2 linked regions of the Homo sapiens genome follow. The protein of the gene in region 1 purifies or fractionates together with the protein of each later gene. This does not show direct contact. Each region holds a gene or a part of one and is shown in the gene's direction. Other genes may lie near its edges.

The links. The genes of interacting proteins can lie anywhere in the genome.
Region 2: the proteins of SENP8 (region 1) and PSTPIP2 fractionate together in Homo sapiens (co-fractionation; one large-scale study listed by BioGRID). This does not show direct contact.

The regions. Positions count from the first base shown.
Region 1 is NC_000015.10:72,135,403-72,138,902, forward strand, and holds part of SENP8 (sentrin-specific protease 8), read left to right. Parts: intron 1-3,500. UniProt on the Homo sapiens protein: Protease that catalyzes two essential functions in the NEDD8 pathway: processing of full-length NEDD8 to its mature form and deconjugation of NEDD8 from targeted proteins such as cullins or p53.
Region 2 is NC_000018.10:46,002,761-46,006,260, reverse strand, and holds part of PSTPIP2 (proline-serine-threonine phosphatase-interacting protein 2), read left to right. Parts: intron 1-729; coding exon 730-792; intron 793-3,500. UniProt on the Homo sapiens protein: Binds to F-actin. May be involved in regulation of the actin cytoskeleton.

The DNA.
Region 1 (3,500 bases):
GGGCTGCTGGTAGGTGTTAAAAAAAAAAAAACTCTGGACTATAAAAAATAAAAATAGAAAATATTTTCACTTTACAGAAAAGGAAAGTGAGAGTTAAGGAAATTTAGTAATTTATTTATGATCACACAGCCAATGAGTAACAGAATTGAATCTAAAATTTAAGTCTTCAAATACGAAGTTTAGAGTTATTTTTGGCAAAGGGTGGGTTTGGCTAAAGGCTAGTTGAGTTCTATTTGCATTAGAATTTTTGGAGTTAAACTTGCTGTCATGCTGTATGGAACAGAATTAAGGCCTTGATTAACATTTTGTCTATGTGCTTGGTATTTTAAAAATCAAACAGACAAAACACAAAAACTATTTCTGAAGAAAATCTTAGCCCAGCTTGTGGACATTCCCTTCAAGGTGAGAGATGACTGACTGTTGAGGCAGTCTTCTTGCAGGTTCCTTTCCCTAGTTGGGTTGGTGTTGAAGACTGGGTGTGATTTCAGCAGGCAGTGTAGAGAGTAGGTCTCCGGGTTTTTGCCAAGCTATATGACCTGGCACTCACAAGTATGCAGTGTTTATTGAAGACATGAGAGACAGATGCTGTAGCCAGGGAGCAGTCATTCTGCCTTTATATTATAAACTCTTACATCAAGTCACATCGACAAGCTGATTACCTAAACTCTGTCAAATTGCTTTTGTTTGATTGATCTGTGCCCATTTGCCATAAGGCTAGATAGTAAAGATTATTATAGGAAACAATCCTGTCTGTTTCATCTGTTGTAAGGATACTGTGAGGCACTATTTGTTATGATGCACCATGTCTTTTATGAAAATCTCTTGAGAAAAAACTATCGGACTATAATACAAAGAATTATTTTACCTCTCCTGAGCAATTGCTTTGTTTTTGTCTTATGGACATTGTGAATGTTTACCTTTCTCTGGCCAGATGCCAAAAAGCTTAGAGCCAAATTTGTGGCCCACCCATAACAAATGTGCTCTATGCCTCATTAACTTCATTCTTGGCTCCAGTTTATGTCTCTCCACTAGTCTTTTTTTCTTAAGAAGATCCTAATTCATGCCATCTTATTATATATTTTTTCTTTTTTCTCATAAGTAGCCTTATGTTGTTTCTCAAATAGTCAGATTATGACATACTGTGTCTACATAAAACCATGTTGGATGCCCCTTCATTTACTTTGGCTTTTTTTCTTGAGGGGTGTATTGATTTTTCATATAGGTTTTTGCAGCGTTTTGTTACACGAAAATGGTTATATCACAAAAATTATTGCTTAATAGTGTAGACAAGTGGTAAAATAACTGGTCTAATGGTCAGAATTGATTAAATTGATGTCATAATTCTAGTCTTGTCTTTTACAGCATTATTACTATTTTCTTATAATATGCTTTGTTTTGCACTCTCAATCTGCATGTGACAGTTTATTGCTGTGTGATTTTCAGAAATATTGTCGTGCTGCCAGGTCACTGCATAACAGCTAACTCTCTGTTAACTCTGTTGAGTCTGTTAGGCTCAAATATTCTACACCCATCAGACTTGTCTCACTTTGGGTGGTCACAGGCATATTAATTTCATCACACAACTTGTCTTGCTTCTCCTCTAAATTAGTCATTCTTTTATTTAGACAAGATAATGTGAATGGATATTTGTTTTCAAACCTCATTTTCTTTGATTGGTTTGGAGCTCTAGCTGGATTTTCTGATTATCTTACTAATGTCATCTAATTGATAAATATTATTGTACAACTTTTTAAACTCTTTTAGTACTTCCAAGTAAAATTATTTGGTCTTCTCTACAACTCTCTAGGGTATGTAAGGTGGGTATATGCCTTTTTTACAGATGGCATACAAAAATGATTAAATGATTTTATATGCCATCTGTAAAAAAGGCGTATACCTTTTTAGAAAAACAAGGACAAAGTCATTTAAATGACTGCTCAAGATGATACCAGCAAATCAGTGGTAAAACTAGGACTAGACCCAGGTTTCCAGAATCTTATCCCATACTACCTTTTAAAAGAAGTCAAAAGAAGTTCTAACTTATATTGTAAACATTACTTCATCTTTATCATACCCCTTGAAGCTAAAGCTATGAAACAGGCAAACACATGTTATATCACTCATGCTCATAGCAGGGCAGAATCAGGAATGAATTTCATTTGTATTAGTCTCATGATTCTCTGTTTTTAAAATTACAGTTCCTTTTAACTACTACCGTAATCACTGTCACGTTCCATTATGGAAGGAGGAAGCAATATTTTATCTTATCTTTTGAAAATTAATGTTGAGGCCAGGCGCGGTGGCTCACGTCTGTAATCCCAGCACTTTGGGTGGCTGAGGTGGGTGGATCACGAGGTCAGGAGATCGAGACCATCCTGGCTAACACAGTGAAACCCCGTCTCTACTAAAAATACAAAGAATTAGCCGGGTGTTGTGGCGGGCGCCTGTAGTCCCAGCTACTTGGGAGGCTGAGGCAGGAGAATGGTGTGAACCCGGGAAGCGGAGTTTGCAGTGAGCCAGGATCGCGCCACTGCACTCCAGCCTGGGTGACAGTGCGAGACTCCATCTCAAAAAAAAAAAGAAAAAGAAAATTAGTGTTGAAATGAAAAGTATTTCCCTTGGAAATTAGTAACTTTTTAGATTCTTTGAATTCATCTTTAATATAAAAATAATTTGTTGTCATTATGCATATTCATTAAGGAGCCAAATAATACAGTTAATGGTATGGTGTTTGGTAAAACATTAGCTATAATTTTAATCTCTGTGCTTCAAGAGGATATTTAAAATTCATGCTTACTGTGTACATGGCAAGTTTCCAGTTCTCATTCTAACTAATCGTTTACATGTAGCACATAAGCTAGAATTTCTTATAGTTACAGTTGACCCTTGAACAACACAGGGGCTAGGAGTGCCAACCCCCGTATGCAGTCAAAATTCTAGGTATAACTTTTTTTTTTTTTTTTTTGAGATGGAGTCTTGCTCTGTTGCCCAGGCTGGAGCGCAATGGCATGATCTCAGCTCACTGCAACCTCCACCTTCCAGGTTCAAGCAGTTCTCCCACCTCAGCCTTTCGAGTAGCTGGGATTACAGGCATGCCCCACCACGCCCGGCTAATTTTTGTATTTTTAGTAGAGATGGGGTTTCACCATGTTGGCCAGGCTGGTCTCAAACTCCTGACCTCAAGTGATCTGCCCACCTTGGCCTCCCAAAGTGCTGGGATTTCAGGCGTGAGCCACAGCACCCAGCCTAGGTGTAGGATTTGACTCCCTAAAAAAATACGCCAGGTGCGGTGGCTCACGCCTGTAATTCCAGCACTTTGGGAGGCTGAGGCGGGCGGATCACAAGGTCAGGAATTCGAGACCAGCCTGGCTGATATGGCGAAACCCTGTCTCTACTAAAAATACAAAAAAAAATTAGCCGGGCATGGTGGCACATGCCTGTAATCCCAGCTACTCAGGAGGTTGAGTCAAAAGAATCGCTTCAACCCAGGAGGCAGAGGT
Region 2 (3,500 bases), on another chromosome or scaffold:
CCAACAAGGTGAAACCCCATCTCTACTAAAAGTGCAAAAATTAGCCAGGTGTGGTGGTGCAGGCTTGTAATCCCAGCTACTCTGGAGGCTGAGGCACGAGAATTGCTTGAACCCAGGAGGCAGAGGTTGTAGTCAGCTGAGATCATGCCACTGCACTCCAGCCTGGGTGACAGAGTGAGACTCTGTCTTAAAAAATAAAAAAATGGAATAAAAGAGTAACAGAACAGCTTCTTTTAGTTGTCTTACAAATTCTTTTTTCCTTCATACTGCCCGGGCACCCTGATGGTCATGGATGTGTCACTGATGGGCTGCAGAAATGAATGTTTACAAGTACCGAATTTAACTGTGCTGATGTATACTTATAGAATAAAGACCTCTTTTAAAATATAAATGGCACTTTAACAAAAGTTTTAAAATTCCTTTTTGAAACCAAAGTTCCTTGATTCCAGATTTTACTGAAGAGACTGCTCTAAGGTGATCAGTGAGTCTCCACTGTGTCTGAGAGTTCAGGCTTTGGTGTTTGCCTGCACAAGTTCAAAGATGGGCCCCGTTATTAGCTAGGAATAAGAGCTTAGGCAAATTGTTTGGTCTCTTTTCTCTGAAGATTGTGAAATGTGGGTAATCATTTTGAACACTTAACCCTCAAGATAAGCTGGTATTGATAATGATTTCTGTTTTTATTAATAATGATTTGTGTTTTTATTAAGAGTGTTTATGATCTCTTTACAGACAGAGCTCATAATGGATGCTATCCATAAACAAAAGAGCTTACAATTCAAGAAAACCATGGATGTGAGTCACATTTTATTGTCTTTTTTGGGATAATGGTGACATTTTCTGAAATCCTGTGCTGTGTATGAACATATTCCTACTCAAATAACATTTCAAAAATGTTATTATTTATTAGTGCAGTGTTTTAGGGAAAACAACCTTAAATGCTTTGGGTTTTCTTTTTTGTTGTTGTTGTACATATTATTACATTACCCAGAGATTAAGTTCAGTACCCAATAGTTATCTTTTCTGCTCCTCTCCCTCCTCTCACCCTCCCTCTCAATTAGACCCCAGTGTCTGTTATTTCCTTCTTTATATTCATAAGTTCTTATCATTTAGCTCCCACTTATAAGTGAGAACATGTGGTATTTGGTTTTCTGTTCCTGCATTAGTTTGCTAAGGATGATAGCCTCCAGTTCTATCCATGTTTCCTCAAAAGACATGATTTCATTCTTTTTTATGGTTGCATAGTATTCCATGGTGTATATGTACCACATATTCTTTATCCAGTCTGTCATTGATTGGCATTTAGGTTGATTCCGTGTCTTTGCTATTATGAACAGTGCTGCAATGAACATTCACGTGCATGTGTCTTTAGGGTAGAATGCTTTATATTCCTCTGGGTGTATACCCAGTAATGGGATTGCTGGGTCAAATGGTAGTTCTGCTTTTAGTTCTTTGAGGAATCTCCATACTGCTTTCCACAATGGTTGAACCAATTTATACTCCCACCAACAGTGTATAAGGTTTTTCTTTTTTTAAGGCCTTGGAAAGATTGAAAGTGACACTAGATAGTGGAAATGCAACAGGGTTATCTTTCTGGTAACCCGAGAAAATATAGCAAGTCAGTTCAAATATTTTAGGCAAAGATACAAAAACATATATAGTGTACAATACCCTTTATCTTATAGAATTTGCAATTTTACCCTGTTACTATTTTGAATCTTGATTGCTTACCTATTTTATTGAGTGATCCCTTTCTGTTTTAAGATATCTGAAAATTATAAAAACTTTTCCTTTAAGTAATTTATTTAAAAAATGTTGGCAAGACAGAGATTGGACAAGTTGCTAGAAATCTCTCTCTAGCTTTTATGTATCTGTTGACTCTGGATACAACAAACTCTGTTATTAGAACATATATGACTCCATCTTGACACCGAAGTATCATCATGATATTCTACGAGTAGGATGTAATAGGGAAGTGTCACCAGTGTTGATAGCATATGCAATCTGTTCTGCTGCATTCTTTTTCTCCTTGATGCAGAAATCCCTCAAAAACAATTGATAAATAGGGAATGATGTCAGTGTAATACAGAAATAGTGTTAGTTGATAGATGATTTTTCCCAGACCTTTTATATTTTAAACAATCTGGGGCAAGATTTTTTATAATTAAAGAGAAAGGCTTATCAAAATATAACTTTCTGGCTGGGTATAGTGGCTCACACCTGTAATCCCAGCACTTCGGGAGGCCGAGGCAGGTGGATCACCTGAGGTCAGGAGTTCGAGACCAGCCTGGCCAACATGGCAAAACCGCGACTCTACTAAAAATACAAAAAAAAAAAAAATTAGCTGGGTGTGGTGGTGTGCACCTGTAATCCCAGCTACTTGGGAAGTTGAGGCAGGAGAATCGCTTGAACCCAGGAGGTGGAGGTTGCGGTGAGCCGAGATCGCACTATTGCATACTCCAGCCTGGGCAACAAGAGTGAAACTCTGTCTCAAAAAAAAAAAAAAAAACTCTGAAAGGGGGAGAGAAGAAGGCACACTGGCTAGTGACCTTGGACTCAAAGAACAACCTGACAAGGGTTCCCTGGGCTTTCTTTTTGCCTCATTTATCACAGACTGAGTGCCAAAGAAGCAGGCATCCCAGAAATGCCAATGGTCATAGACCAAAAATTAAAAAAATAAAAAAAATAAATAAAAAGCTCCAAGAAAAACCTGTTCTCTCTAACCAAAAGACCAGAAAAGGGGCAGCCTAGCAGGACAGAAACTTTAGAAAATAACCATTCTACTGCAGCCAAACACCACGTAAAAAACCTGGGGACCCACCTCCACACATCAGCAAAGGCCAAGTGGAGAGTCTAAACTTCCACCACACCAGGCTGTAGAGAGCACCCAACTCCCCTGCCAAGGTGGCAACAGAGAACAAATAGGGGACCAGGACTTTCACTCCCACCAGGAGGTAACAGAGCCTCCTCTACACAGTGTTATTGGGAGCTATGTGGGGAACCCTGACTTCCACCTGCACCGGGAAATAATGATGTACACCCTCTCCCTCCTGGGATGGTGTCTAAGGAGGTCTAGTGGAGAGTGAGAACTTTAACCACTTTCCAGTAGTAACTGGGTCACACACACTCTGTGGTGTCAGTGGAGACCAAGGAGGGGAAACCTGGACTTTCACACTCACATGACAGTAATGAGATGATGCCTCACCTTCCCCTGCTGGAGTGGTGTCCTGAGGAAGCTAGCTAAAACAGAAGCCTTAAATAAAATCCAGAGTCTTGTAACATAATACCAAAAATTCCCCCAAATCAATCAAATATCACTCTTCATACCAGAAAGATACGAAACTCCATGAAAAGAAAGACAATCAATAGCTGCCAAGATCTAGATAACAGAGATGTTGGAATTATGTGACGAAGATTTTACAGCATCCACTATCAAAATATTCAGCAAGCAATTACAAAGACACTTTTTTTGAGATGGGGGGGTCTCACAATGTTGCCCAGGC